Linked DNA regions of Homo sapiens: region 1 is linked to region 2. Evidence: fine-mapped expression QTL. A gene starts in region 2. The other region holds a variant in brackets. All regions are shown on one strand. Distances are from middle to middle.

Evidence for each region. PIP is the estimated chance that this variant, and not a neighbour inherited with it, causes the effect.
Region 1: its variant is the best candidate, but not a certain one, in a credible set for the expression of INO80B in whole blood (TOPMed, PIP 0.78).

The regions. Positions count from the first base shown.
Region 1 is chr2:74,409,263-74,414,496 of GRCh38, reverse strand. It overlaps C2orf81 (chromosome 2 open reading frame 81), which reads left to right. Exons shown (of 3, transcript NM_001316764.3): 3 at 1-320. The coding sequence ends at 168. Among named protein-coding and RNA genes, the nearest start is that of C2orf81, 9.7 kb to the left of the region's middle. The variant A/G (reference allele first, on the strand shown) is at 1,987.
Region 2 is chr2:74,452,922-74,458,405 of GRCh38, reverse strand. INO80B (INO80 complex subunit B) reads right to left here and starts at 3,319. Exons shown (of 5, transcript NM_031288.4): 1 at 3,232-3,319; 2 at 2,808-3,000; 3 at 2,470-2,588; 4 at 2,134-2,303; 5 at 462-1,072. The coding sequence starts at 3,289. The coding sequence ends at 542. It overlaps INO80B-WBP1 (INO80B-WBP1 readthrough (NMD candidate)), which reads right to left and starts at 3,383. Exons shown (of 8, transcript NR_037849.1): 1 at 3,232-3,383; 2 at 2,808-3,000; 3 at 2,470-2,588; 4 at 2,134-2,303; 5 at 546-1,072. RefSeq lists enhancers at 1-90, 316-465, 91-597, 1,096-1,165, 3,216-3,805 and a silencer at 716-955.

The DNA of each region.
Region 1 (5,234 bases), 44 kb after region 2:
GTGTTGCTGCCAGAAGCCCTGAAGCTGGCCCCTGGTGTGAGCATGTGGAACCGGAGCACCCAGGTGTTGCTCAGCTCTGGTGTGCCTGAACAAGAGGACAAAGAAGGTAGCACCTTTCCTCCCGTTGAGCAACATCCCATCCAGACAGGTGCCCCAAAGCCCAGGTGACCGTAGCACAGCTAATGAAGAACTCAGCCCCCAAAGTGTGGTCACGCTCCTCTAAGCCTGCTGCCTCCCTCTGATCCCTGAGCCTCTGGCAGTAGTAACTGGTCCCTCCCTCTGCTAGCCAGAAATAAACACCTGAGTTGCCTTAGGAACTAGTCTGATGTCTCTTGTCAGTTTCTTCCAAGGGTGTCCACCCTCTCACTGAACCCCAAGGGGAGCAGTTATCCTGCAGGCCTAGAAGAAGATAGAACCAGGGTTCAGGAAATAACCCTCTCGCCACCCTTAGGAGACCCTGCATTAGGGCCAAAGCTGCCCCATTGCAGAGGCATTCTAGAGAAACCCCTGTCCCCCAAAGGAGTAGACATAAGGGCTGCCAGCGGGTCTGGCTCTGTAGAGAGAACTTCGAGTCTCCTTTCAGTAGGGGAGGAAGGAGAAGGCCCCGCATAAGCACAGAGTGATTCGAGATATGAAGAACTTGATTTCTTGCTTCCCTGGTCCCTGGAGCTTGGTCACTTCACCTTAGACTGCAAATCCAAATTTCACTTTTGAAGTTAAGGAGGAACTCTCAAACTCAAACAGTATATTGAACAAACTCAAGAGTCAGTGCCTCCTTAAATTTTATCTTAGGCTCCACACCTGCCTCATTGCTAGTCTCCACTCTGCCCAGATTTATCCTGCACCCACTTCCTCCTACAGCATTTCCCCAGCAGGCCCAGGAAGTTTCTGCTATGTTGCTGTGGGCTGCACTCAGCATCCTGGTCTGGGGCGCTGGCTCTGTCTTCCTTATTCTGGTCTTCTTCAACTACATGTGCAGCTCTGGCAGAAGTCTCATCCCTGGGACCTCCAGTGCTGCTCCACAGATCTGACTGGGAAAATAGCCATAGTGACTGGGGCCAACAGTGGTGAGTGCTCCTCCCACCCTGAATCCTCACTATGGGCCTCAGCCTCCAACAACTCTCACAGGGAAGGCAGGGAGGAGCATCCACTATCAACACCCTTGTCCCTCCCCTAGAGTGTCCCTTGTTCACTGTAGTCACCACCCAGCCGAAGTTGTCCTCCCACAGGCATCGGGAAGGTTGTATCCCAGGACCTAGCTCGGTGTGGGGCCCAAGTGATCCTTACTTGTCAGAGCAGGGAATGTGGACAGCAAGCCCTGGCTGAGATCCAAGCAGCCTCAAACAGCAACCGCCTCCTGCTTGGCGAGGTGGACCTTAGCTCCATGACCTCTATTCGGAGCTTTGCCCGGAGGCTTCTACAGGAGAATCCTGAGATACATCTGCTGGTAAACAATGCTGGAGTCAGTGGTATGTGCCTGGCTTGCTTCTCCAAACATGTTTCTGCAGTCTCCTTTCTAGCTCAGGAACTCTAAAACAGGTATCCTCAAAGCCTAGTCTATGCAATCTTGCCAAAACACTAATCCATACCCTCCCCTAAAAAGCTGACATTGAGTTATAGCCTTAAACTTCATTGCCCCCATCTTCACATGTATGTGCCCCTGTGGCATTTCTGCTGAAGGTAATATGTCCCTCCCAGACCTTGTCTCCCTCAAGGTGGTCCCTTTATCACTCAATGCCAGTGTTTTCATTTCCTCCCAGGATTCCGAAGACACTTACCCCAGGGGGCCTGGATCTCACCTTTGTCACTAACTATGTTGGGCCCTTTCTGCTCACAAATCTACTCCAAGGTAAGGAAGGATGGGCACCTTCTGTGCTGCCCTCTTCCCTATACCCCTGGCATTCTAGTAACTGTCTCCCAGGACCACCTCTTGCCTCTTGGCACCCAGCTGTTTGCTGAGTGGTGACCCAACACACTTTTTGTGTC[A/G]CACATCAGGGAAGCCCAGCTGGCACAAGTCAGTATTAGAAGGCTGATAGAAGAATCATTCAGCCCAAAATATAATCAGCAAGGGGATATGAGATCCCAGACCTCCTTCTCCCATCCCCTAGTTCTAGCCAGACCAGTAGAGTAGTTTTTGCAATGAAGGCTTCTTGAGGGGGACACTAGGCACCAGAAACAGAGAAAGCAAGAAGACTCAGTTTCTGTTCTCAGGGTCGGCCAGAGGTGTAGGCCATACAGATGATACAGTTGATACATTACTGCCTTGGGCCTAAGTCCTTTGAAGAGGCCCTTTCTGATTGAGAAAGTTTGGCTCCTCCAGGGAAAGTTTCGGGGAGTGGGTGGCAGGAACATTCTCTCTGACATTTTCTCCTAGATTGTATAATAGCCCCTTTATTATTATTATTATTTTTTAATTACTCATCCCCTTGCAATGTGATAGCCTCCTTAAAAGAAAAGCAATTTTTCTTTTGGTCAGGTAATACATATCCAAAGTACAAAATTGAAAGTGTACAAAAGGATACAGAGGGTTTTTTTTTTTAAACTATTTTTCTCTTCTGGTACATAAGCCACCTGTTCCCCTCCTGAGAGGCAACTACTGTTGCCGGAGTCTCACGTATCCTTTAGCAGTCAACTAAATTAATCCCAATTGGAAAGTGAACAAAGGCAAAACTCTATGCACCTGCAAGTATGATTGTTTTTGTCCCTTTCCACAAATTGTAACATGTCACGACACTATCTGCATCTTGCTTAGTGACAGTTTCTTAAACTTCTTTCCTGTCTCATCTTCTCTAATCTATTCTCCCCACTGCCACATCGAGTAATCACCTTTCATCATGACACTTTCTTGCTTAAAATCCTTTGAAGGTAACCTCTCCTTTGTAGGATGAACTCTAAGCCCCTTCTCTACACTTAGAAGGCTGTGTGCTAGGCTGGGTGCAGTAGCTCATGCCTGTAATCCCAGCACTTTGAGAGGCTGAGGTGGGCAAATCACCTGAGGTTGGGAGTTTGAGACCGGCCTGATCAACATGGAGAAACCCCGTCTCTACTAAAAATACAAAATTAGCTGGGCGTGGTGGTGCATGCCTGTAATCCTAGCTACTCGGGAGGCTGAGGCAGGAGAATTGCTTGAACCCGAGAGGTGGAGGTTTCAGTGAGCCAAGACCGCGCCATTGCACTCCAGCCTGGGCAACAAGAGTGAAACTCTGTCTCAAAAAAAAAAAAAAAACCCTCTGCTGACTAAGAGCCTTGCCTTTTGCCCTTCCTTAACCCACCTCCTAGTCTCCAGCCAGACAATCTGCAGCTCTTGGACCACGGTCTGTTTTTTTTCACCCTCTGGCTGTGTTTTTGCACATACGGTTCCTTCTATCTGGAATATCCTTTCTCATCATGTTGGCCTGGCTAACTTTAGTTCACCTGCCAAGACGCAGCACAGATATCACCTCTGCTGTGGATCTTTCCCCAACCTTCACCTCCCCCAGTCACCCCTATTTATGGGGCTCCATTAGCCCCCTTGTACATATCTCTGTGACTGCACTGATGTTGCTCTGTGAGGATCAGTCTCTCCAACTGAGCAGAGAACACTTTTGGTCTCTATGTCACTGTCTGCAAATTTAAAGTCCATTGTCTTCTTTAAGAATAATTTTCTTTCCAGCAAATTTTGGCTAAATACCACCTGCTCAGTTTCTCATTTGTAATTTGTAATTTTTAAATTTTATTTTGTATTAATTTTTTTTTCTGGGGAGAGAAGGAGCAGTGCTGGAAGCAGTCCATGCAGCAGGCTGGCCTCCCACTGAGTGAGTCTTAATTTCAAAATAGTTTTAGCATTTTAAAAACAATACTGTAAACTCATATGTGACAACAACTATTTTTTATACTTTACATAATCCAGACTTTTTTTTTTTTTTTTTTTTTTTTGGAGACGGAGTTTCGCTCTTGTTTACCAGGTTGGAGTACAGTGGCGCGATCTCGGCTCACTGCAACCTCCGCCTCTTGGGTTCAAGCGATTCTCCTGCTTCACCCTCCCGAGTAGCTGGGATTACAGGTGCCCAACACCATGCCTGGCTAATTTTTTGTATTTTTGCTAGATACGGGGTTTTGCCATGTTGGGCAGGCTGGTCTCAAACTCCTGACCTCAGGCCTCCCACCTTGGCCTCAAACTCTCGCCTTGGCCTCCCAAAGTGCTGGGATTACAGGCATCAGCCACCACACCCAGCCAATCCAGACTTTTTTGTATACTTATTGATATGGTTTGGCTCTGTGTCCCCACCCAAATCTCATCTCCAGCTGTAATCCCCATATGTAGAGGGAGGGACCTGGTGGGAAGTGATTGGGTCATGGGGGCAGTTCCCCCGTGCTGTTCTTGTGATATTGAGAGAGATCTCACAAGATTTGATGGTTTTAAAAGTGGCAGTTTTGACCTGGTGCGGTGGCTCACGCCTGTAATCCCAGCACTTTGGGAGGCCGAGGTGGGTGGATCACGAGGTCAGGAGATGGAGACCATCCTGGCTAACACGGTGAAACCCCGTTTCTACTAAAAATACAAAAAAAAAAATTAGCCAGGCGTGGTGGCGGGCGCTTGTAGTCCCAGCTACTCGGGAGGCTGAGGCAGGAGAATGGCGTGAACCCAGGAGGCGGAGCTTGCAGTGAGCCGAGATCGCGCCACTGCACTCCAGCCTGGGCGACAGAGCAAGACTCCGACTCAAAAAAAATAAAAAATAAAAAATAAATAAAAAGTGGCAGTTTTCCCCTGCCTGCTCTCTGTCTCTTCTGCCACCACGTAAGACATGCCTTGCTTCCCCTTTGTCTTCCACCATGATTATAAGTTTCCCGAGGTCTCCCCAGCCATGCAGAGTTGTGAGTCAATTAAACCACTTTTGTTTATAAATTACCCAGTCTCAGGTAGCATCTTAATAGTGGTGTGAGAACAGACTAAAACACTTATGTACTATTTTAAACATTTTTTTTAAGATTTAACTTTAGGATTTTAATTTTGTTTTTGTTTGAAACATAGTTGGTTTTTTTTTTTTTAAATATTAAGCTTGTTAATAGTTTTCCAGTGATGACCTTCCCTAGCTTTGTTTCTTTAAAAACATTTTCTCAAGTATCTCTGCACACATATTTCTTTTCCCCCAAACCTAGCACCGTTATGTCCTTAGCACCTAGCTTAGTGTCTGCCATATTCCAGGTGCCTAATGAACATTTGTGGGATGGATAAATGAAGGAATGAATGTATG
Region 2 (5,484 bases):
CGTCCCTTGACGGACGGGCCAATAGGAACAGATCAGAGGTTTCTCCCTGTGACCAATCCACAGCAGCGCCTCCGCCGCTCACCCAGACAACAAGAGCTTGTACAGACAAAGAGTAGGTGAAGGTTCGACCCACGGCCCTGACTGACAGCGGCAATAGCCAATACAGACAACAGAACAGGCTCTGGCATATCAACCAACGAACAGCCGCCCCGAAGAGCAAGGTTGCCGCTGATTGGCTTGCGGTATGTTTTCGGAATGACGCCAAAGGCCGAAGCACGCCAGGTAATCCCGGCTGGAAGAGGCGGAGTCCCAAAAGTCGGTCCGCTGGTTTGCAGCCTGGTTTTTTGCGGTGGTTTCCAAGCCCCAGGCATCGACGCAAGCTCCGACAGGGGCAAAATACGTGTATACCGGAGACTGGTCTGCCCACAACATCCCACTCCCCCAGTTCTGTACAAGCCGAAGCACCGGATGTAATTTAATAGGGTGGGGAAGATACTCAAGAGCGGGCATGGGACGGGGCGCAGAGTCCGGGTTAAGGGCCTTACGTAGCCAAAAGGGGGGATCCAGGACCCTCGGGCCCCCCCAGCCGCATCTGCAGGTTGATGCGGTAGCACTGAAGACTACAGAGTGCCTGGCCTGTGCGGGAGCAAGCGTAGCGGCGCGGATGGGGACAGCCGGGGACAGAGCAGCGCGGCGGCGGGCCTGAGGGGGATGGCCGCTGAGACACTGCCGTGGGGGCGGGGACGCCAGGTGGGAAGGAAAGGGTGGAACCCTGTGCTCCGCTGCAGTAGCGCACCATGGGGGCCGGAGCCGCAGCCCGCCCTCCCCGCCGCTCGCCCCGTGCGCCCCCCCGGCCTCCCCGCCCACTGGTCGCCGCAGTCTTGGTGAGGCGCTCGATAGTCTGGTTCTTGTGCTCTTCTGCCCGCCGCGCCGCCTGGAGCCGCCGCTTCCGCGCCCGCTCCTCGCGCTTCAGCAGCATCTCCTCTGTGAGGGCGGGAGGTGGGCAGCCCTCAGCTACAGGCAGCGGCAGCATAGGGGAAGGTTGACTCCGCGCCTTCTGGAGCAGAGCTCGCTAGGGAGAGACAGAGACGGGGTGCTGTCTGAAAATGGAGGAAGATGGAGAGGCGAGGTCGGCCAGATCGGGGGAGGGGAAAGAAGGGACATGGAAGGCAGGGTCTTGAGCAGTGCAGGCCTTCGGAGGCGGGATATTAATTAATGAGCACCCTCTCCAGGACACCTTCCATAGGTTCCTCTTCATAAATACTGCCTCCTCCCAGATCTCCTGACATTTAGCTTTAGGTCCTTATCTCTCAAGGGGAGAAGCATCAGTAATGTTACCTGCCTGACCTGTGCACCAAAACTGTACCAGCTTTCCCAGAGGTCTGTTGTTATTTTTAATCTTATCTCAATAGAGAGTATCAGGTGGATAACTGCTCAAGCCAAAATCCCAGGCTTAGCCTTGATATATTTTCTCTCCATTCCCCTCCCCACAAGTATCTACTTCCAAAATATAGCCATAATTCATCTGATTTTCTCCATCTCCACCACTTTCGTCTTGGTTAAAGCAACCACTGCCTCTCAGCTGATTACTTCAACAGCTTCCTAGTTGTTCTCCATACTTCTATCTCTTGTCTCCACGAAGATTCATTCTCTACAAAGATGCCAAAGTAATCTATTGAAATGTAAACCAAGTATGTCACTTCTCTGCGTACAGCCCTTCAGTGGCTTGTCCACTTTTTCTTCTCCTTTGCTAGACATGTTCCAGTCTCAAGGTCTGTGCGCCTGCTGGTCTCTGCTCAAAAGCTCTTCTGGTATTGCAAATGTTATCTCTTCAAAGAAGCCTTCTCTAACTACCCTAATGTCTCTCTTCCATCATTTCTATCTGTTTGTTTACGCCACTTTCTATTTCATCACCCTTTTCTTTTTGTCATAAACCATATAGCTTTTTGAAATTATTTACTTATTTACTTCCCAGCCCCCCAACACACACACTAGAATACTAGCTCCAGGAGAACAGAAACTTTGTCTTTTCTCTACTATCGATATCCCCAATGCCACGCAAAGTGCGTGGGTCGTGGAGAGTTCTCAATACTGTATACATTTGGTGAGTGAATAAACAATGAACCAACATACCTGTCGAGCAGTAAGCAGCCGCTCATTGATCTCCTTCTTGAGGTCTCCATTGTCATCCAGCTCCCCCTTCTCCAGGGCATCCAGCCACCTCTGTTCCTCCTCTTCCTCCTGACCCCCTAACCCTCCTGATAGGTCCCGAAGTGGAGAGGGAGAGAGATTACTGTCTTCATCTGGGAAGGAAGTTGGAGAAAGAAAAACAGAATTGTTCAGATGGGGCACCCTAATTTGGCTGAGTTAATACTGGGACATGGAAAATCCTAACCCATTTCAGAACCAACCTTCTTTCTTTAGGCGGGTATAATAAGAAACCCAGTTTCCCCACCTCCAGATCCTCACCCAGCCAGGCACGGTACTGCTCAAGGGGGACTCCTTCCATAGGTTCCTCTTCATTATCCACAACCATAAGGGGAGAGGGTGAGCGAGGCCCCTCTGGGATCACAGTGAAGGTAGGAACACTGCAGAGAAGCAACACTACTCTTTAAAATGAGCAAGCGTCTCCTCCTCCTACTCCGTAGCTACACCCAACTTTCCCCACCCTCTTAGACTCTTGCTGCCTAAATCTGGACCCTGAAGTCACAGTGTCCATTCGGTCTTCTAGAAAGCCCAGTCGGCTTCTAACTACTATCTCTGCTCCTAAAGTTCCCCTTATAAAACTATGACCCTCTTGGCCTCACCTCTTGGTCCCCAGGACTTGTCCCCCAAGCTTGATTTTGAGTTTGAGCTGAGGCTTGGCAGGGGACGGCTGCGTGGGCCCGGCGTCTTCTTCCTGATGGTGTTTCTTCTTGTGTTTCTTCTTGTGCTTCTTGTGTTTTTTCTTGTGCACTCCATGGCCATGGGCACCCGCCAGGCTCAACTCCAGGGCTTCTCCTGTGGAAGGAAAGCCTGTCGACAGTGTTTGGCCGGAGGGTGGCAGGGGAAGCCCTGAATAACCTAAGCCCCTACTGGATCCCACCCTTCCCGCAGTACTCGCTGTTACCATAACAACAGCACCGCCTTTCTCCTTGCCACCTGTGGCCGAAGTACCCTGGACTCTCCGAGGAGCAAGAACGGGACTTCTTTTCTAACACGACCTAAATTGCTTGATCTATTCGCGCTTACCCGGCTCAGGGGCCTCCATAGCCCCAGAGGTGCTCCCACGCCGCCACAGCTTACTCATGAGGTCCTGCGAGGAAAGGGGACTAGAAATGGTTGGGACACACGCAGACACGCCTTTTCCGCCCCGCGGAAAAACTGGAGCCAGCAAAACAACCAGTTACTTCCGGTTCATGGCAACCATCCTTGTGCGGGGCACGCTTCGCGTCCAAAATCGTCCCTGAGAAACGAGGATCCTTCCAACGAACGTTCCGGTCCCTCTGAGGTCGGGACAGCCCAAATGGGCAGGGCTTTCCCCTGGCTCCGCCTCCCCACGCTAGCTTTCAGAACTCAGCGCGGATGAGTCAATTATTGAACACAAGTTTGGTGAATGTATACACTAGACCAAGTGCGGGAAGCTAGTCTAAGAGGATGCAAAGATGAATATGAACACCGCCCCTGTCCTTGAGGAACTCACAGTTGGGTGGAGGAATACATAAACTATATTGATGACAAAATGGCCGAAATGGTTAAACAGCACGAGTGCCCTAAGAGCAGATGCAGTTTAGGTATTTAAACTTCAATTTTCATAAGTAGGGAAATGAATAAATGAATTACGGTGCAGCTGTACAATGCGGAACACCATATTGCTAAGAAAAGTTGAGTTGTAAGTAATTAATGAGATTGACACAGAATTTAAACAATCTAAGTGTCCTGATGAATTGGTGTATCCATACAGTGGGATGTTAAGCAGCTTGGAAAAGAAATGAGGCGCCCCAGAAGGCTATCTAGGAAATTGGTAAGAGTCATTTGCTGATGAGCATCTAGAGAACAAGGGTGGATGGCGACCTATTTTTTTATGATTATACCCTCTTGTGCCTTTTGAATTTTGTATAAAACGTGTATATTTTACCTCATTTTAAAAAAGACATAAAAACAGGTAGGTTTGTATGTGCTGATACACGAAATAAGAAAAGTAAATTTCCCATCCTGGCTAATACGATGAAACCCCGTCTCTACTAAAAATACAAAAAAAAAAAAAAAAATTAGCCGGCGTGATGGCACGCGCCTGTAGTCCCAGCTACTCGGGAGGCTGAGGCAGGAGAATCGCTTGAACCCGGGAGGTGGAGGTCGCAGTGAGCCGAGATCGCGCCACTGCACTCCAGCCTGGTCGACAGAGCGGGACTCCGTCTCAAAAAAAAGAAAAAAAAAAAAAAGTAAATTTCAAGATTATGTGATCTGATTTTTAAAAGCATAATATACTAGCAAATACATAGAAAAAATTGAGGAATGTATACCTGTTAATGTTGGTTAACTGTAGAAGTTGGGGTTGAGGAACTTTCACTATTTAGGTATGTAATGTATTTTCTTACAGCCAATATATATCACGTTTATAATTAGAAAATAACACCTATATACATATATCTAAATATATATGAGTGTCTGAGCAAGGTAACAGCAGTGAAAAGTCTCTTACATTTCAGTGATAAAATTATCAAGAATCAATGAGCAATTATATTGGGGAATCCAGGATTAAGTCATGTAGTATGTGATTATGAAAAGGGATTTTGGAGTCAGACAAGCCTATTATCAAATCCCAGTTTCACCATTTATTAGCTATGCAACCTTGGGCCTAAAATTATTTAAGCTCTCTGAACCTGAGAATCCAGCTCTATAAGATGGAATACAGTAGGATCCACCGCTATGAGGGCTCTTTCAAGGAATAAAGGAAATCAAGAACTCATGATACTTAGGGTGGCAGCAGGCACAGGCACAGGCACATAGTAGATGCTTCAGTAAGCAAATAATAATAACTGACTCATAGGTTTCTAGCCTAAGTATTTAGCGGGAAGGTGGTATTTTCAGTAAGGAAGATAACATAGGAAGAGAAGCAAGTTAAGAAGGGAATTATTTAGTTTTGCCCAAGGCGACTTTGAAGTGCCTGTGGGAATGCCTGGGTGGAGGTGGAATAGCTGAGAGGAGAAACCAAGGATGAAAGTGTGAGTGGGGATGTCATCAGCGTAATACTGGAGGCCCCCAAGTGATGGGAGTAGATGAGACACCCAGAAAGAGTAAGTAGATAAGAGGAAAAGAACCAGGAACAGAACCAAGTGAGCACCTGTCCTGCACAGCCAGGCAGAGGGGCCAGACAGGGTTGAGAAGGTCAGGAAAGGCAGAAAGTATCAAGGGACTAAGGCTGTGATCAGCTGGGTACAGTCCTTCAGAGGGTAGGCTGAGCTCCAAGAAGAGGATGGATTTTATCACAGTGTGAAGGCAATA